Homo sapiens: one gene and its partners. The protein of the gene in region 1 interacts with the protein of each later gene in a biochemical or structural test. Each region holds a gene or a part of one and is shown in the gene's direction. Other genes may lie near its edges. The genes, in order: INPPL1, GAB1, BCAR1, MET, PLEK2 and ERBB4.

Evidence for each region.
Region 2: the proteins of INPPL1 (region 1) and GAB1 form a complex in vitro, tested with the Homo sapiens proteins (one large-scale study listed by BioGRID and IntAct).
Region 3: the proteins of INPPL1 (region 1) and BCAR1 form a complex in vitro, tested with the Homo sapiens proteins (one study listed by BioGRID).
Region 4: the proteins of INPPL1 (region 1) and MET form a complex in vitro, tested with the Homo sapiens proteins (one large-scale study listed by BioGRID and IntAct).
Region 5: the proteins of INPPL1 (region 1) and PLEK2 form a complex in vitro, tested with the Homo sapiens proteins (one study listed by BioGRID).
Region 6: the proteins of INPPL1 (region 1) and ERBB4 form a complex in vitro, tested with the Homo sapiens proteins (one large-scale study listed by BioGRID).

The regions. Positions count from the first base shown.
Region 1 is NC_000011.10:72,234,767-72,237,206, forward strand, and holds part of INPPL1 (phosphatidylinositol 3,4,5-trisphosphate 5-phosphatase 2), read left to right. Parts: intron 1-349; coding exon 350-437; intron 438-529; coding exon 530-685; intron 686-908; coding exon 909-987; intron 988-1,079; coding exon 1,080-1,220; intron 1,221-2,357; coding exon 2,358-2,440. UniProt on the Homo sapiens protein: Phosphatidylinositol (PtdIns) phosphatase that specifically hydrolyzes the 5-phosphate of phosphatidylinositol-3,4,5-trisphosphate (PtdIns(3,4,5)P3) to produce PtdIns(3,4)P2, thereby negatively regulating the PI3K (phosphoinositide 3-kinase) pathways.
Region 2 is NC_000004.12:143,409,876-143,413,375, forward strand, and holds part of GAB1 (GRB2-associated-binding protein 1), read left to right. Parts: intron 1-3,500. UniProt on the Homo sapiens protein: Adapter protein that plays a role in intracellular signaling cascades triggered by activated receptor-type kinases. Plays a role in FGFR1 signaling. Probably involved in signaling by the epidermal growth factor receptor (EGFR) and the insulin receptor (INSR).
Region 3 is NC_000016.10:75,227,681-75,231,152, reverse strand, and holds the end of BCAR1 (breast cancer anti-estrogen resistance protein 1), read left to right. Parts: intron 1-1,129; coding exon 1,130-1,642; 3' UTR 1,643-2,972; downstream 2,973-3,472. UniProt on the Homo sapiens protein: Docking protein which plays a central coordinating role for tyrosine kinase-based signaling related to cell adhesion. Implicated in induction of cell migration and cell branching. Involved in the BCAR3-mediated inhibition of TGFB signaling.
Region 4 is NC_000007.14:116,699,696-116,703,195, forward strand, and holds part of MET (hepatocyte growth factor receptor isoform b preproprotein), read left to right. Parts: coding exon 1-589; intron 590-3,500. UniProt on the Homo sapiens protein: Receptor tyrosine kinase that transduces signals from the extracellular matrix into the cytoplasm by binding to hepatocyte growth factor/HGF ligand. Regulates many physiological processes including proliferation, scattering, morphogenesis and survival.
Region 5 is NC_000014.9:67,405,666-67,409,165, reverse strand, and holds part of PLEK2 (pleckstrin-2), read left to right. Parts: intron 1-3,500. UniProt on the Homo sapiens protein: May help orchestrate cytoskeletal arrangement. Contribute to lamellipodia formation.
Region 6 is NC_000002.12:211,384,303-211,387,802, reverse strand, and holds part of ERBB4 (receptor tyrosine-protein kinase erbB-4 isoform JM-a/CYT-1 precursor), read left to right. Parts: intron 1-652; coding exon 653-950; intron 951-3,500. UniProt on the Homo sapiens protein: Tyrosine-protein kinase that plays an essential role as cell surface receptor for neuregulins and EGF family members and regulates development of the heart, the central nervous system and the mammary gland, gene transcription, cell proliferation, differentiation, migration and apoptosis.

The DNA.
Region 1 (2,440 bases):
GGGCATGGGCATGAGTGAGGATAAAGGCGTTTGCTTTATTTTGGGAGTGTGGAACCTTGTTGCAGTTTGTTCATTCATTCAGGAGATGCTTCTTGAGCTTTTGCTAGATGTCAGGTCCTGTGTTAGCTATTGAGAAAATTAATTAGTTACAGTGATGCTAGGTGCTGTAAAAGGCCTGTATAGGGCTGTGTCTTCTGCATTAAGGATTTGGCTCTTCTCTGAAGAGTTGAGTGTGAGTGAGCACAGATGACCTGAGGGTGGGGATTGAGTGGTGTCAGGGGGCAGCGCGTAGGAGGGGCAGGAGGAAGTGGCGGGGCTTTGTTCCTCACTGGGCCTCCCTGCTTCCCAGCTCAAACCAATTCTGGCTGATATCGAGTACCTGCAGGACCAGCACCTCCTGCTCACAGTCAAGTCCATGGATGGCTATGAATCCTATGGTGAGGGGTGAGGGGTGCTGAGGGGAACAGGAAGCCAGACAGGGCCCTAGATTAGCTTGGTAATTTGCTGGTTTGTCCCATCTGCTCCTCAGGGGAGTGTGTGGTTGCACTCAAATCCATGATCGGCAGCACGGCCCAACAGTTCCTGACCTTCCTATCCCACCGTGGCGAGGAGACAGGCAATATCAGAGGCTCCATGAAGGTGCGGGTGCCCACGGAGCGCCTGGGCACCCGTGAGCGGCTCTACGGTGGGGACTCCACTGGGACATGAGATAGGGTGGTGTGAACAGATCAAGGAGGGCAGGGTGCGGGGGGCATGTTGGAATCTCTGGGATACCTGGAGGTTCTGCAGCCACAGCTGGGAATAGTCCTGCCCCAAGGCATAGCTGGGAAAGGGCTGGCAGGCCCACTGGGTGTCTGTGGGATCCAGGAGCCCAGGTCTCCTCTGAGTCTCCCTTCCTGCCCCCTCAGAGTGGATCAGCATTGATAAGGATGAGGCAGGAGCAAAGAGCAAAGCCCCCTCTGTGTCCCGAGGGAGCCAGGAGCCCAGGTGAGCTAGGGCTGTGTTGAATGTCATATGAAAGGGTACCTGGGGGCATCTGGTCAACCCCACTTCATCTCTCTCCTGTGCATCCCTGGCAGGTCAGGGAGCCGCAAGCCAGCCTTCACAGAGGCCTCCTGCCCGCTCTCCAGGTTATTTGAAGAACCAGAGAAACCGCCACCAACGGGGAGGCCCCCAGCCCCACCCCGAGCAGCTCCCCGGGAGGAGCCCTTGACCCCCAGGTGAGAGGAGGAACCTGTCACCGCCCCCCCTTCCCCCACCCACCTCTATCCATCACTATCCCCTGCAGGGTCTCAGGGTTGGCCTGGAGATCATCAGCTGCTTAGGTGCCCTGCCACTCTGTGGTTGGAGCTGCCATGGCCTTATGCCTGTGGCCAGCCAGGCCACCCTTAGCTGTGGCTCTGAGTCAAAGGGAGCAGTCAGCCTTTCCTCTCAATTCTGCCTTTAAAAATGGAATGCGAAATTGTTTCTAAGACAGCTCCCTCCATGTAAACAGACCTAGCTTGAGCCTTCTATTTGGAGGAGGCACATGGCTCGGCCTGGGATTTCCCAGGGTACCTTCTTTGGAACTCTGTCCTGCAAGAGGCCCCAGTTGAAATGGGTTTGTGGTCAAATGAGTTTGGGAAATGCTTTTTCTAGATTCTTTTCTTAGACATTCCCAGTGCATGTTAGTATTAGCAAAAGCTCTGAGCATGTGGACAGGAAGGAAACCTCTTTTCAGCTCTGTTTAATATAGTTTCCCAAACTTAATGGGCCAGGAAACTTATTTTCCATGTAGTAACTATTAACGTTCTGGGGAATTAGTGCTCTGTGTCACACTTTGGGAAAGTGAGGCTTGCTTTCTAATTATATCCGATTGTTGCTTAAACTTACATAAACTCCTAGGTACAGTTTGGTGCTTTTTCACTCATCTTCAGCTGTTGTCAGTCACCCCGGTTTTATCCCTAGGCTTGAATAAGACCCACCTGAATCTCTGAGAAAGATTCTGCAGCGGATTGACTGTGGGTGCCTCAAGAGGCTTTCCAAACCTGGCCTCTCATTGGAGGCTTCTTGCCCTGTCTTCTGGCACCTCTATTCTGACCCATTTAGCTTGGGTTTCACAGCTACAGATAAAGTCATGAAAGATCTAAGTATCTTAGCAAGTGAGGCAAGGGATTGTAGGGTTATCCATTCAAAGGGTTATCCTCCCTCTGACCTTTAGAGATGAAGAAACTAAGGGCAGGTGATGTGCTCAAGGTCATGAGAAAGTCTAGGACCAGGGGACTTTCTGACTCCCGTCTAGTTCTCCTTCCACTGCTTCCACTGCCTTAGACCTGGGTTCCTGGATCCTGGCTTAGTCGTTCTGCTTCCACACCCAGGTTGAAGCCAGAGGGAGCTCCTGAACCAGAAGGGGTGGCGGCCCCCCCACCCAAGAACAGCTTCAATAACCCTGCCTACTACG
Region 2 (3,500 bases), on another chromosome or scaffold:
TTTTGTTTTTGAAATTTTACTTTAAAGAGCAATATAATCCTATTGATTGGATCTATGGTTCTTAATCATGGTGGCACATTAGAATCATCTGTTGAGTGTTTAAACCTGCCTATTCCAATCTTCACCCCACCCCCATACACTACAATTTAGTTGGCTTAAGGTGAAACCCCAAGCTTTTTTTTTTTTTAAGCAAAGCTCTCCGGATATTTCTAATGTGCATTCAGGGCAGAGAACCCATGGACTACCCCCGACCTCTTCTCTGATCTTCTCTCTTGCCTGCCCATATATTGGCCACTTCCTCAATAATTAGCTCTTCCAGTAAAGGTACAGGGAAAAGATGAGGGAATTTTGGCAAGCATCACACCAGGCATGTGAGCTGTCATTTATACCACAGAGAACTCACAAAACAGGGTGTACAGCAGTTACAATGTTTTTCTTTAAAGCTGAAGCCATTTGCTAGTTAGGTTAATTAGGCAAAATTTGTGAATTTGTTAGTAACGTTACAGCCATATAGGCAAAATTTGTGAATTTGTTAGTAATATTACAGCCATTAATGGCTTGGGGTTAATCCAGGTTAAAAAATGTTTCCTTCCCACCAAATAGTGGGACTCCCATCTGTACTTTCTTGCCAGTATGTACATACCCATACTCTAGGGTGTGTGATAAGCCTGCCTTAAGACCTAGCTTCAGTGTGACAGTTCTACAGGTGAGCATATCCAATTTGCTAAATACAGGAAATGTTTAAAAGAATAGTTCTTTTAAAATGATGTTTAAAAACATCTCTCTTATGTCTGTAGAGTTTTAAAAACAAATTAATTTGTTTACACACCTCTATGCTTGCCTGACCAATTCTTGAATGGGCTGGGCAGATCGCAGTTATATCACTATCCCTGCAATGCATAAATAGTATGAGAACTTCTGTATTTTTAATCCTTGCCTCAAACATTTTGTATTGCGTATTTAGCAGACATTGACTGAGCACCTCCTTGGCGCTAGGCAATGGGAAAGGAAAGAAGAAAGGTTAAAATGGCTCCAGCCCTCAGTACATTCAAATGCACAGATGTCAAATGATTTAGGAAAAAGGTGGAAATGGAGAGCTCAGAGCCAACTCGGATGGTGCCCCGAAGAGGGCTGAGCTAAATCTAGGGGGTAGATTTTGTGCCAAGGGGTGAGAGGCAGGACAGAGCAGAGTGTTTGGGAAACTACAAGTATTTCCAATGTGGTTGGAAGGCAGAGGGGCAAGAAGTGACGCTGGAGAGATTTAGGGGTGGAGATGGGGCGGGAGTTGATTGGAGGGTCCTGTGTACCCTGCCAGAGTTTGGGTTTTATCCTGTAGGCACAGGGGGCAGTCACTGAGCATAGGGAATTGGCTTCAGAATTTGGTACTTTTAAGTTACCCCAAAATCCAGACTTAACTGTTGACTTCTTGTTAACAAATTATTTGTTCAACTCAAAATTGGAGTGACTATTGCATATAAGAAATGGCTACAAAATAAGTTTTTACATAGTCCTTCTCAACTATGCAGACATCTTGCAAATTTCAGCTTCTTCATTACCTGCTCGTAATGGAAGTCTAGTCGTTAAAATGATTTTTTGTGTGAATTTCTTTTAAAATTACTTTGAGTATTTGGTTTTGAAGGTTTCTAGAAAGCCTGTCCTTTTTGTCTGCTCCTGCTCTGCAGGATTGGCAAGGCAGTGTACGGCTTTCTCTGGAGCTACCAAGGCAGCAAGGATAAAAATAGGACAAACTTTAAGAATCTCAGATATTTTCAGATAACAAAGACTGATTTATGTGGGCCCGTTTTGTGCTCTGACAAAACATAGAGACGCTTTTGTGCTGTGATTAGCAAGGGTGCTGATGTCAGTTCTCTTGTCGAGCATCAAGCTTTATTCTGTGGCTAAATTGTGCTTTGTACCATAATCCAGAGAACCTTTGTATCTGCCTTATTAAAGTGTGTAGTTTATGTAATTGCTTTTGTTTTCCAGCTTAATCTGTGCCAGATTCAATGAGGGTGACTCATTTTGTGACTGAGACAAACATTCACATTTGGACCATGTTAAAAATAAATAAATAAATGGCAGGTGCTGCTTGGCTAAATTCTGTGTTTTAATGCTGTAATTTCCTGCCGTAAGGGTTCACGTCTTGTATAATGTCTACTCAGCCTCTGTAATCACTAGCCCAATATATCTAATGCACCTCAATTCATTGCTACTCATTTCTTGATTATTTATTTTAGTTCCTAAGGGCTTTTTGAATTGTAACAATGTGATTTCAACAGGGAAGCCAAGGAATGGATGGGGGGGAGCCACAGTTAGCCGGAAAACAAAGAGTGACACATAAGCTGTAGCAAAAGGACATGTTCTGTGCTTTTCTGTTTTTGCCATTTTCCCAAGATGTTTTGTGCATGTGTTTTGGTAAAGTTGTCTTAGTTATGTTTATTTTATTATGTATATGTTCAGTATTGGAGCTCTTTTTCTCAAGTGGAAGATGCTTTGAAAGCACTCTCTTCATTGTGGCCCATGTATCAAATCTAATCTCAAAAATTTTACAAGTCTACTCTCTCAGGAGAATTCTGTTTATTTATTGTACAGATATGCTATGTACTAGGCACTGTGCTATGGCAAATAAAGCAGGCGTGGTCACTATCTTCTTGAACTTTTCAGTCTGTTTGGGGAGTTACGTACTACACAAATAAATACAAAGAAAAATTGAATTGCAAAATTACACAAATCACTACGTAGGTAAGTAATAGGATCTCTAAAACTATGCTATTAGTTTACACTGGAGTTGGTTGCATTGAGGGTGGTCAGGGAAGAGAAGCCCTGAAGGTTGGAGTTGGCCAGGCAAAAAGTGAGGGAAAGAATATAATGTATTTAGGGGAAAACATGTGCAAAGTCCCTGAGGCAGGTAAGAGTTTAGCCTCCTATAAACCCTATTATTGGAGGGGGAAAAGTGACAGTTGATGGAAATTGAGAGAAAAAAGACAGGAAACTGTATTTAAAAGATGAACTATACAAGCATAGCAATATGGTACTATTTATTAATAGTATAGGGGCAAATGACACTCTATACAGTGCAACAGCCTCTGAGAGTCTCCTGAAGTGCAGTATAGAAATGGATGCTTACAATACTTAGTCTGAATCATTGGGGAATGGATTATGTTTGGTGAAGTATGTAGTAAAGCATTTTAGAAAGATTTGCGTGCAAGACAATAAAGTTTTAAAAAGTCATTTCTGTATTTAAAGATGAAGCTTCACTATCTGGAGAAATCACTTACTGAATGATATGATTTCTTGAGGGCCCTGCATAAATAACATCATATTTTATATTCTTTTGCTTTACTTCTGCATTACTTTTTAAAGCTTACTGCTTGAGAGGGAAGTATCCATAGAGGGATAATTTTACTAAGAGATGATATTTATTTATTTTGCAGTAAGTAGATGCATATTCAATGAATGGATTTTTATAGTCCAGAAAACAGTGCTAAAATCATGTGAAT
Region 3 (3,472 bases), on another chromosome or scaffold:
TTCACTTCAGCCTGGGCGATAGAGCAAGACTCCATTTAAAAAAAAAAAAAAAAAGATTAGCCTGGGTGACAGATCAAGACTCCTTCTTTATAAAAATAAAAATAGTATTGAAAAAAAAAAAACCCCACAAAGCTTGTTGCCTGTGCTCTGTCAGGGCTCACTGCAGCCTGGACTTCCCAGACTCAAGTGATTCACCTGCCTCAGCCTCCCAAAGTGCTGGGATCACAGGCATGAGCCACCTCACCCTGCCTCATCAGAGCTTTTCAAAGAAAAAAAGCGGAGTATGTATCTCACTGGCTAAGGGAACGGAGAGATGGAGGATTTCACCAAGTGGCTGCCTAAGGGGGACAGTGCGAGGTTCTAAGTGTTAGGAAGGGGAGGTTTCCTATTGGTTTTGCTCATTGTGGCTTGGATCTTTGCGCCTAGGGTGGCACAGAGCTTACCAGTCCTGAGTCTGGGTGTGGCTGGTCACTTCCGGAGCCAGAGCGGCTCTAGTGAGGACACATTGTCCCCTTCAGCTGACTCCTAGGCACGGGAGTGGAAATGTTAACTTTCGTGTGTGGTTCTGGAAGATGATTTAGCAGAGGTTCTATTTAGGGGCATTGGATTACAGGTGACATCTTCGTTTTTTCTGTTTGATATATTTGAATCTTTTTATAATGTGTATGTTACTTTTGAACTAAGGGGAAAATTTTTTTAACCTTCCATTTTGAAATATTTATAGATTCACAGGAAGTTGCAAAGATAGGGTCGAGGGGTCCCCAGTGCCCTTCAGCCATTTTCCCCAGTGCCACGTCTCAAGTCACGTGGGACAGTACCCAAGCCAGGACGGTGACCCCCCGACCCCAGGCAGCCACTTTTCTGTTGTCCATCTTGTCATTTCAAAAATGTTCAGGGCACGGAGTCTGACCTTTTGAGACTGGTGGAAGGGTAACTGAACAACCTCCAGAAGGCTTGCCATGGTTCCTGGTCCCGTCCCCGGGAGAGGAGACTGCCCGTTTCCCTGCAGTCCCATGCACTCTGAGTAGCGGCCCTTTTAGAGAAGCCCAGCCCAGGGTGCCCAGGTCTCGGCCTGTAGTTCCAACTCACCCGAGAGCCTAACCCTGCTCCTGCTTCCCTCCTGCCCCAGCTGAAGCAGTTTGAACGACTGGAACAGGAGGTGTCACGGCCCATAGACCACGACCTGGCCAACTGGACGCCAGCCCAACCCCTGGCCCCGGGGCGAACAGGCGGCCTGGGGCCCTCGGACCGGCAGCTGCTGCTCTTCTACCTGGAGCAGTGTGAGGCCAACCTGACCACACTGACCAACGCCGTGGACGCCTTCTTTACCGCCGTGGCCACCAACCAGCCGCCCAAGATCTTTGTGGCGCACAGCAAGTTCGTCATCCTCAGCGCCCACAAGCTGGTGTTCATCGGGGACACACTGTCACGGCAGGCCAAGGCTGCTGACGTGCGCAGCCAGGTGACCCACTACAGCAACCTGCTGTGCGACCTCCTGCGCGGCATCGTGGCCACCACCAAGGCCGCTGCCTTGCAGTACCCATCGCCTTCCGCGGCCCAGGACATGGTGGAGAGGGTCAAGGAGCTGGGCCACAGCACCCAGCAGTTCCGCCGCGTCCTAGGCCAGCTGGCAGCCGCCTGAGGGTGGTGACCCCAGGAGGGAGGCAGGGGAGGGGTGCGGCGGTCCCAGCTCCCTGGCTCCCATGTCAAGAGTCGCTGTGCCACAGGCTTAGGGACAGGACCCCAGCTCTGCGTCGGTCCTGGTGCCCTGGATGCCCAGGAATCTGTATATATTTATGGCCGGGCAGGGTGTGGGGCCATGCCTCCTCAGGAGCCGAAGCCCAGGGGCCGGCCAGTGGCCTTCCCCAGCATGCACCACGGGCCCGGGTTGGGTCACCAGACGGGGCTGGAGTGTGAGGGTCCTGCAGCCTGCAGGACCTCGTGCCACCCCGAGGGCTGAGCCTGGTCCCACGAGGGTGCCGTGTCCCCTGACAGGGCCAGTGCAGTTTGGTGTGTCCTCCGCCTTACCAGGAGAAGAACCTGAAGAACTATTTTTCGTTATTGGTTTTCCAATCATTTGACTAAGAGTCTCCATTTAAATAAAGTTTTTAAAAGGAAGAGCAGCTGCCTGAGGGTGGCAGATGAGAGCAGCCCGGGGTGGGTGACGGTTCTGGGGAAGGCACCCGGGGGCAAGGGCCATGCGTGGCATCTCCCGGGAGGGCAGAGGAGGAGTGGGTCTCTCTAGAAGAAAACCAAGGAACGCCGAGGCTGGGTGTCTCCTGGAGGCGGGGTGAGGCCTGCAGCTGGCCACAAGGCCCTGGGAGCCAGGGCAGAGCCTGGGCCCAAGAAAGGGGGCAGTTTCAGAGCTGCAGGGTCTGGGGCCCAGAAAGCACAGCCTGGGCATGGCCCCTGCAACCCTAGGGAGCTGCCACAGTGAGCACCTGCCCATGCCCACAGCTGGCATCTGGAGTGAGGGCAGATTGGGGCAGGAACAGCTGCACAAGGGGACGGGTTCCTGTGAGCCGAGGGCACCGCTGGGGGCTGCATCCAGAGCTCTGCTTAAAAGAATCTCATCCCAGCCTGCGGAACTCCCGAAGTGCACATGGAATTATACCTGGACCTGGCATCTGAGTTGGGAGGGAGGGGCTTGGAGAAGACCCTTGCCCTGGGCAAGTGTGTCCCCCTTCGTGGCTCCCCCACCCAGCAGCCCGCAGCCCAGATGGAAGCTTCAGGGTGCTTGGAACCCCTGGTGCTGCTCCCAGCCCTGACCGTTCTGCATATGAACATGGGCCTTGGTTTCCCCATCTGTATGAAGAAGGGAGTAGGGCTGGGTGATTCGCAAGCCCTCCTGATCTTACCTCTACAGAGGTTGTCCCCGTGACAGCATCTGTCCCCCCACCTCAGCCACATCATGCTCAGCCCACCTGCCTTGGTGAGGACACAGAGGTAAAGGTGTATGCAGTTGCTCTCAATGGCTTTATTTGTGTTTTACACAGATGCGGGGTAGGGGGGGTGGTCTCGGCCTCCACGCCTTCCCAGGCATGAATTTCATGATGCGGGCATCCACGCCTGGTGACAACAGGAGGTGCTGGTGCTGCTCCAGGACACGATGCCCTCCAGAGTCCAGGCTCCATCCTGGCAGGCAAGGGCTGTCGGAGTCACCCTGCAGGAAGGAGAGGAGGTGTCTCCAGGCCTGAACTGGGTGCCAGGGCCTGGGAGACCCTAACCTGGCGGAGTCCAGGGAGGGGTGCGGAGAAATGGCAAGTGTGGGTGCAGGGGCTGTGCCAGGGTCCTGAGGCCTGGGTTCACGTGGCAGCCCCAGCTCTGCCATGCACACTCCTGGAGGGAGCTGGGGCAAGTGGCTTTCATCCATGCCGGGGCGCCATTCATCCCATGAGCTGACGCTTCCAGCTCAGAGGGCTGGGAAGAGGAGGAAGTCCCCAGGCAGCCTCGCCTGCCTGGTTCAGGAAGC
Region 4 (3,500 bases), on another chromosome or scaffold:
TTATTTCCCAGATCATCCATTGCATTCGATATCAGTGAGAAGGCTAAAGGAAACGAAAGATGGTTTTATGTTTTTGACGGACCAGTCCTACATTGATGTTTTACCTGAGTTCAGAGATTCTTACCCCATTAAGTATGTCCATGCCTTTGAAAGCAACAATTTTATTTACTTCTTGACGGTCCAAAGGGAAACTCTAGATGCTCAGACTTTTCACACAAGAATAATCAGGTTCTGTTCCATAAACTCTGGATTGCATTCCTACATGGAAATGCCTCTGGAGTGTATTCTCACAGAAAAGAGAAAAAAGAGATCCACAAAGAAGGAAGTGTTTAATATACTTCAGGCTGCGTATGTCAGCAAGCCTGGGGCCCAGCTTGCTAGACAAATAGGAGCCAGCCTGAATGATGACATTCTTTTCGGGGTGTTCGCACAAAGCAAGCCAGATTCTGCCGAACCAATGGATCGATCTGCCATGTGTGCATTCCCTATCAAATATGTCAACGACTTCTTCAACAAGATCGTCAACAAAAACAATGTGAGATGTCTCCAGCATTTTTACGGACCCAATCATGAGCACTGCTTTAATAGGGTAAGTCACATCAGTTCCCCACTTATAAACTGTGAGGTATAAATTAGAAATAAGTATCAGTCTCAAAAAGAATATCCAGGGCTTCTTTTGTGCTTTGTAAATGGTGTTTATCCAAAATAGTTGCAGATTTTTTCCAAGAAAATTGAGGAATTGAATCTTCATTTACACCTAAAATTATATCTTTAAAATGTAAATGGTAACTAAAAGAAAAATGTTTTTACAATTCAGATTTGCATGTTCGTGACATTTCAGATTATATTAAAGTTATTTCCCATATAAGCTTTTTTATATTTACACAGATTTTATCAGATTTACACAGATTTTATCAGATTTACACAGATTTTTATCACAGCAGCAATTCCCATAAAACATAATTATTGACATTTCTATATAATCTCTGCAACATTTACAAGATGTTCAAGCTAATTTGTATGCCTTAAAGAATTGTTCCTTATGAGATTATATTCTCTCACTGATACACAACTGATTAATCTATATTCTTGACATTACTTAAAGGAACTTAACTTTAAAAAACCTCTTCTGAAATGCTGGTAAATAAAACATTTTTAAATGAGCTCGTATACTTCTCTAAATAACCTGTAAGAGTAGAGAGGAAATGTTTGTTCCCAAGTCCTTCCTTTAGAGCTTGACTTTAATCATGGACTTCCTTCTGGAAAAGACTTGTGTCTACCAAGTTCTAGCTTGGCACTTTACCTGGTTGGTATTTGTTATTTATAAGCATAAATATTTTGGTTGATGATTATTTATACTTATATGAAATGGTATTTTCTTAGGAGCTGTTAGAGATATTCTTGGTGCTGTGATTTAAATATAGTAACAGCTACCAGCTATACCTGGAGATTTATCCTGCTAGTCAGTTGATCACCTGGTCTGAGTGTTTATTGTGGCTTTGAGTTTCTTGATCTGGGCCAGATTTGGAATACGGACCTGACTATGACCATCATTGAATGAACAAATAGTATAGCTTTTCTAAAGACAGTTTGACTTTGGCATGGTATGTTTCACTTACTTTAACAGGTTTCAATCTAAGATATAAAGGTTATAATTGCAATCAGGTAGAACATTAAACATGTCCTCAGTAGCATAAAGTATATAATTTGCTGAGGGGTAAAGGCATATGAATTCAGAGACATTTGGTTGACTTTTGCTGAAATGTCTGGGACACTTCTCTAGATGGAAACTATAGTTAACTTTTTATGATGCTAGGAAAATACTTCCAAGAAAGTCAGTTCATCTTTTGGTGAACTAAAAACAAAACTTCCTTCCTCTCTCTTCCAAAGTCTATGAATATACATAACATAAATGCACATACATTCCAACTAAGACTTATTTCCCCCTACATACATTTAATATATGTTGCAAAGAAGCAATAGAATTCCTTATGAAGCTCCCCCTTTTCTTTACTAGAAACTACAAAAGAATGAAAGGAAACAAAATGATTTTCAGAAACCTGGGATTAGGAAATAAAAATATAATATTAATAGCATTACAGAGAAGATATTTTTCTGCATCCAGTAAGTTGATTCTGAGACACAAGTTTTAAAAGAGTCTATTAGGAATTCCTCCAGGGCTCCTAGAGCACATGGATTTGCTATTTAAATCTTTCTTTGTTAAAAATTAAAAAGAAGGGTAGGGCAAGAAAAAAATTAAAAAGAGAATTCATAAAGGTATATTGATATCTCATTTTTTAAATTTTGTACATTTCAATCCTTAGATGTAAAAATACTTATCAATTCTAGAAATTCTCAAAACACATCTGAATTTTATCCTACCCTTTTGACTTTTTTAGTGTTCCAAGGGAGACAAACAGACAGGATTAGCCAATGAAATTCAGGTCAGTTTTATCGCCCAGGAAAAATTCCCAAAATGCACTAGCCACACCTGAAACCATTATCACTCCCATCACAAAAATTCTTGCGGGAAACAAGATGGAACTTGCCAACATAGTCTTCTTACAAAGGAAGCCAACTTTTACACTGGCCAAATTCCATAGACAAATACCTTCAAACCTCCTCTATTTATTTGCCTGTTTATCTTCTCTGGTTACAAAGATCAAAATTCTTCTGAGACTGAGACTACACATATTCTCTCTCTCCATATACCCCATCCAGACCTCAGATTGTTCCAATAATGAGCATATAATCATTTCCTAGCTTAATGCCAAAATGAAGGCACCTAGAGCCATTCATCACACACAAAAAAAACAAAATGATTACAAGATCAAAGCTGTTTAGCAGGACTCTCAAGCAATAAGATGACTCCATTTTGTCTTGGCAGATTTACTTGGCCAGAAATCAAGTGACCCTTTTAATAATTTCTTGGAACTGAGTTTTTACTTTGGCATCAAGTTTGGTGAAAAGACACACATATTGTAGTTTTGTTATTAACATCTCTAATACATTTATAAAGGGACTCTTGTGGACAAGGTTAAGAAAGCTGAGCTGCAGCAGTAACTTTCTACTTATGCTTCTGCCCAGTCCTCAGTGTTGACACATTGCTGAAAGAGGGATTTCCTGGCACTCCAAGAGCTCTCCACCATGTGCAAAAAGTGTTTCTATCACAAGATCAGATAATGGGAGTGCCAGGGACGGGCCTTTTACATTTTAGGGGTCCAGCAGGTGTACCAGGCCTGACTTGCTTGTTTAGGATCACATATTTTGTTGCTTTTCCCAGTCTCACATTTCATGAAATATGTCTATGCAAACTCTTCACATGCATCTTCTCATATTGATGACATCACAAAAGCCCTCTTTTGAGTCATTTGATAATTCCCAGTACTCGTCATCTTCACCCATAAGCTATTTGTGCTTCAGAACTCTTTGTCTCCACATATGATGCTGTTTCTGGAAACTTATCCCAAGCCACAAATGCCCACTTATAGAATACCAGT
Region 5 (3,500 bases), on another chromosome or scaffold:
GCTCAAGCAATCCTCCTGCCTCAGCCTCCCTAGTAGCTGGGACTACAGGTACATGTTACCACACCCAGCTAATGTTTTGTTTTTTGCTTTTTTTTTATTTCTTTTTTTTTTTTTATAGCGACAATGTCTCACCATGTTGCCCAGGCTGGTCTTGAACTCCTGGGCTCAAGCGATCCTCCCACCTTGGCCTCTCTAAGTGCTGGGATTATAGGCGCCTGGCCAATAAAGGATCATTTATGTGGCGAAAAAACTGAAAACCACCTGTCTGTCCCCACCAAATGACTAATTAAATTATGGTTATGCAGATGTTGAATATGTTTATAGTATTAAAATCCGAAGAGTAAAGTGATAAAATGTATGAGTAAAGAAAAAATATGCGTAGAAGAAAAAGAGCAGAAGGAGTTCTGGAGGCTAGAGGTGCAAAATCAAGGTGTTGCCAGGGCCGTGCTGCCTCTGAAACTTGTAGAGGAGGATCCTTCCTAGCTTCTGGTGTTTGCAGGCAACCCTTGGCATTCCCTGGCTTCTAAATACTTCAGTGCAACCACTGTCTCTGTTGTCACGTGACCATCCTCTCCCTATGTGTCTCTTAGTGTCCAAATTTTCCTCTTCCTATAAGGACACCAGTCAATTGGATTAGTGCCCATTCTAGTCTAGGGTGACTTCATTTTAACTTGATTACATCTGCAAAGACCCTATTTTCAAATAACATCACACTTACAGGTCCAGAGGTTAGGACTTCAGTGTATCTTTTTTGGGGAAATACAATTCAACCCATAGCAAGTATCATCCCATCTTTGTTTTTTCTTTTTTTATTTTATTTTATTTTATTTTATTTTATTTTATTTTATTTTATTTTATTTTATTTTATTTATTTATTTTGAGACCGAATTTTGCTCTTGTTGCCCAGGCTGGAGTGCAATGGTGCAATCTCGGCTCACTGCAACCTCTGCCTCCCAGGTTCAAGTGATTCTCATGCCTCAGCCTCCTGAGTAGCTGAGATTACAGGCATGCACCACCACGCCCGGTTAATTTTGTATTTTTAGTAGAGACGTGGTTTCTCCGTGTTGGTCAGGCTGGTCTTGAACTCCCAACCTCAGGTGATCCACCCACCTGGCCTCCCAAAGTGCTGGGATTACAGGTGTAAGCCACCATGCCCGGCCCTCTATTTTATTTTATTTTCAAGAGACAATGTCTCAGTATGTTACCCAGGCTGGAGCACAGGGACTGTTCACAGGTGTGATCATAGTGCATTGCAATGTTGAGCTCTTGAGCTCAAGCGAACTTCCTGGCTCAGCCTCCCAAGTAGCTGGGACTACAAGTACACACCACTGGGCCCAGCTGGCATCTCTGCTTTTCTCAGGGTTATAGAGCCTTGGGCAAGACCTTTCTGTGCCTCTGTTTCCTTATCTTTAAAGTTAGGGGTCTGCCGGGTGTGGTGGCTCACACCTGTAAATTCCAACAATGTGGGAGGCCAAAGTGGGAGGATTGCTTGAGGCCAGGAGTTCGAGAGCAGCCTAGGCAACAAAATGAGAACTCATCTCTACAAAAAATAAAATAATTAGCCAGTCATGGTGGTACTCGCTTGTAGTCCCAGCTGCTTGGGAGGCTGAGATGGGAGAATCGCTTGAGCCCAGGGGTTTGAGGCTGCAGTGAGCTATGATCATGCCACTGCACTCCAGCCTCGGCAACCAAATGAGACCCTGCCTCAAAAACATTTTTTTTAATTAAAAAAAAATAAGGTTAGGGGCTGGGCGTGGTGGCTCATGCCTGTAATCCCAGCATTTTAGGAGGCCGAGGTGGGCAGATCACGAGGTCAGGAGTTCGAGACCAGCCTAGACAACATAGTGAAACCCCATCTCTACTAAAAATACAAAAAATTAGCCAGGTGTGGTGATGGGTGCCTCTAATCCCAGCTACTCGGGAGGCTGAGGCAAGAGAATTGCTTGAATCCAAGAGGTGGAGGTTGCAGTGAGCTGAGATCGCACCACAGCACTCTAGCCCGGGCGACAGTGCAAGACTCCGTCTCAAAAAAAAAGTAATAGTAATAAGGAATAAAGGAGGCTTTTTCCTGGGGTCTCTCCAGCTGTAACATTCTGTGTCTCATAAGCCCATCCCTGAGGTGCCATTCCAGCTTATGGGCCCCTCGTCCTTCTCTCCAAAAGGGATCCAGGGAACTCCAAGCACCCCCTGCTTCAGCTGGCCTCTGGTTCCAGCCAGCGGATTACAGACAAGAAACCTAAAAGAGAAGCTACTCTCTGCCCAGGGACAAGTGTCCAGGTGGAGGGAGGCCTGGGTTCTTCTTCAGCATACCATTGTGTTATCGGCCTGTGACTCACTTTGCCTGGTGATTTTAGACCAGTCACTATGCCCTCTGTGCATGGTGTGGTTTATCTGTAGAGCAGAACCGGTGGTGCTTTCCTGCCAGGTTCATGGACTATTCCAGCAGCCTCCAGCTGAGCTCCCCACTCCAGTCTCACCTGCTTCCTTTGGCTATTCTGTTCTGCTGCTGTGTTCGGAGTGATAGGTTTAACATGAGAACGTAAGCTTGCTGTCTTTCTGCTTAAAATCCTCCAAGGACTCCCCTTGAAGATCAAACTTTGTGGCACAGAACCTGAAGCCCTTGCCACCTTGGTCCCCATCACCTCCCCTATGGAGCCCAAGCCATATAGAACCACGGGGAGTCTCCCCAAAGTGGCAGGGGTCCTATGCTCACCCCTCCTTGACTTCCTGACCTGCCTAACTCCACACAACCAGGAAGACTGAGCCCCAGTATCACTCCTGGGAATGTACCTAACCCCACCTCAGCCTCTCCTGAGCTCCTCCTTGGGGTTTGTATCATGCCCTATATTAATTATTGATTGTTGTATAACAAATTATCCCAAAAGTTAGCATTTTTTTTTTTTTTTTGAGATGGAATCTTGCTCTTTCACCGAGGCTGGAGTGCAGTGGCGCCATCTTGGCTCACTGCAACCTCCTCCTCCTGGGTTCAAGTGATTCTTGTGTCTCAGCCTCCTGAGTAGCTGGGACTACAGGCACCCACCACCACGCCCAGCTAATTTTTGAATTTTTAGTAGAGACGGGGTTTAACCTTTTTGGCCAGGCTGGTCTCAAACTCTTGACTTTAAGTGATCTACCTGCCCTCAGCCTACCAAAGTGCTGGGATTACAGGTGTGAGCCACCGTGCCTGGCCAAGCATCTTAAAACAACAAGATTTGTCATCTCACTGTTTCTGAGGGTCAGATATCCAGTAACAGCGTAGCTGCAAGACTGGCTCAGGGTCTCTCGTGAGGCTGCAGCCAAGAGTGACAGTCACCTGAAGGCTTGACTGGCTGTAGGGTCCAATTCTGAGCTCACCTACATGGCTGTTGGCTGGAGGCCTCAGCTCCTCACCTCTCAATTGGGCTGCTTAGGATATGGCAGCTAGCTTTTCCCACAGCAAATAATCAGAAAGAGAGAGAGGGAGAGAGGCAGAGGGAGAAAGAGAGAGAATGCCAATAAGA
Region 6 (3,500 bases), on another chromosome or scaffold:
TTGTAGATGTGTTTTTATCTCAGCTGATAATCCGAAATTGAGATATCATGCATCAACAGTAGCTTTCAATTTTTATCTGAAGGATTTACCTGGGCACATAAATTATGCTTCTGGATGTGGAGGTGATCTTTACTTCCCTGATTATTGGTCATGTACTAAAAAGTCAGAATTATAGTGATGATCCTCTAGTTAGGTACTAGAGCCTCAAATTCATAATAACCACAGAATTTTCGAAGGGAATAAAGACATAGGATTATTCAAAATATATCCATGTACTTCTATTCTTAATGACAACTGTCTATAATTAATGACACTTGCATTTATCATAAAAATTCACTTTGAAATTTGTATTAAATATAGGCACTTGTGGGAAAAGGGCATCAAATACATTTTATTAGAATATGTTTCAGTTGGTTAATAAAACTAGAATGTGTATTTCAAAATTATTTTCTGATGATTTATCTTTTAAGAAAAGTGGAAATTTTAGGTGTTTATAGTTTGTAACTCCATTAGCCACTAGGGGAAAAAAAACCAGTAAATACTATGACTATTCTCTGAAAGACTGGCTTTGATATCCTTGTGGCTATTAACATTCATTTTTAAACTATTTCTAACAACGCCTTCTCTCCACATATGTTTCTCTTATTAACAGAACCAGTTTGTATACCGAGATGGAGGTTTTGCTGCTGAACAAGGAGTGTCTGTGCCCTACAGAGCCCCAACTAGCACAATTCCAGAAGCTCCTGTGGCACAGGGTGCTACTGCTGAGATTTTTGATGACTCCTGCTGTAATGGCACCCTACGCAAGCCAGTGGCACCCCATGTCCAAGAGGACAGTAGCACCCAGAGGTACAGTGCTGACCCCACCGTGTTTGCCCCAGAACGGAGCCCACGAGGAGAGCTGGATGAGGAAGGTTACATGACTCCTATGCGAGACAAACCCAAACAAGGTATGAACTGATTATTCAGAAACGATCGCCATTCGAAGTTCACTTCCATCAAGATAAACAAAGTACAGAATAGAAATTGCCAGATAGCTGACCAGCACAACATTTGTGATCCAGTAAAGGCCTAGGCTACTGCTACTTGTAGTATGGTCCCTGAATCAGCAGCATCCACATTATTTATTATTATTTATATAAATCAGAATCTCAGGCAGGCCCCGTCTGAATAGGAATCTGGATTTTAACAAGATCCCCAGGCTATCTGCATACAGCAATCAGTCTTGAGAAGCACTATTCTAAACATATTTTGTTGAAATATTTGAATGAAGTAGCATACTACAAAGTGTCAGGACCATAGCTTTATTGGACTTAATTGCGGAGATCAGAAAGACTGGTATTGTTGGCAAAAGTGCCTGATGCTTTTGATGGCACTAATAAAAGATTTGTTTGACTCATTTAAATGATGACATTTAAACAACCTAGTTTATTATAGGAAAATATTATGTTCTTATATGACGTTTTTCAAAAATTAAAGGTTTGACCCTGTATATACTTACAAGCATACCACCAAGATTTGAAAATAATAATCTGTGGTTTTACAAAGCATAACAATAATTTTGTAAAGTTAGTAGTAGAAATGTTAAGCACCCAAATCAAATAATGCTTCAATTTTGCAACAAAACAGCCTTTCTTCTTCTATGCTAACAGTATCACAACAGAGAAGATAGATGATTGTTATTAAAAAATGATGATCATGTCTCTCGCAGTCTTTAGTGTCAACAGTAAACTACATTTTAAGACTCTGAGAAGGGCCTGGTATATGGTTATGTTCTCTCCTTTAAAGTAAAATTTAGAGATCTCTAATTGTAAATAACCTTTTAAAATATATCTGTCTAGATAAAATTTTTACATATCTAAAACTTCTATACATATAAAAATGTAATGAAGAGTTTGGATGCTCATAGTAGCCTAGTAATGACACAAATGTAGACGTTGTGAAGACTTGGCAGATTCACCCCAAAGAAGAATCTTTTCTGGGGAGATTTTCACTCCAACCGTAAAGTTATTGGACAGCTATATAAGTTTGCATGAGGACAATATATAAGTAGATTGCATTGAGGAAAGGTAAGGTGAAGAGAAAAGCAAGTCACCCTATAGAGTCACACTGTATTCTCAGATTTTATCTCTGAACACTAAGCTCCGTTTCTATAAAAGGTTGCTATAGTCTAACCTCGTACTCAGAGAGTACAGAATTTTAGTGTAGACATTCCTATTCTTTCAATTAAGAAGTTTAAGGAATCTGGTAAGAGAGACCAAATTCTGCATTCCTTATAAATGTTTTCATACACTTGTCAAATTAAAACTTGTTACTAAGCATAAAGTTCACCCAACTCCTGCAGGGGCAATAATAAAAAACAGTGCAGTAGAATAAGAAGATTATGCAAGAGGAGTTAGAAGACCTGAATTCTATCCCAACACTAATTGTATCCTGCACACATCATTTAATCTCATTTTTCTGTCTACAAAGCTGGAAAAATAAGTCTTGTACTTCTTTTTCACAGAATTGGGAGGATGAAATGATAGTGTCTTGTAAAGGCCTATATATGATAGTGGGATATTCATTACTGCCCTTTAAGTTGAATAAATGATGCTAAATACTTACCTATTCTGTATATATATATTTGGAGAAAAATAATCCTCACTTAATAGGATTTTTCTCTCTACTTATTGGGCTAAGGATAAAAGACAGAAAGTTTGTTTCAGAATGGCCTCTCAACAAAGAATTGTGCCCTCTTCATGCCTTGAATTCAAAATAGGAATAGCTTAGGGCTTTGTGTATATAGTAAAAGAGAGGACTGTCAGAGGACTTACAATACATGCGTGTTTATGTCTATGTGCAGTCTATATTATAGACATAGATGTGGAATTAAGCTTCAGGAGAATGGTGATAATTATTAGCACCTTTTAGGCCAATACCTATACTAGATGGATTTATTAGATTGATCCGTACAAAATAGGCACTAATTGACTGGTTTCAATATACAAAATTTATTTTATTTTATATAATTCAAGCTGATAGTTTGCTACTTTGTGATTATGATTGGTCAATGGAAATATTATAATTATACTTTACTATTAAGTAGAAGTATATGTAATGTCAAGCAGGTCAACTAGAGGCATGTTAGCTATCTGTTAGATTTGCTTTTTTAGTTGAATTTTTTTCCTTTGATGCTTTCTTTTCCATGTGTAAAACCTTTTTCAGAAGCATCTCCAATTAAATCCTTGTTACCAGTATAGGCAATCATAGCAAACCATAGAGACTAAAAAACATGATTTCTTCACTCCATCTATTCATCTTGGCATGGAACTCAGCTATAGATTCTTGTTTTTTCAATATCCTTTATAGAAGTTAAGTTGTCTGTATATTTAAAGACTATTTAATCCTAATAGGTAGTCTTATTTCCTAATATAAATAACTTTTAGAAAACAAAAACATTGAAACAACCAGCCCCATATGCAGAAGAGACAAATGCAATTAGAAAGAAAGAAAAATTT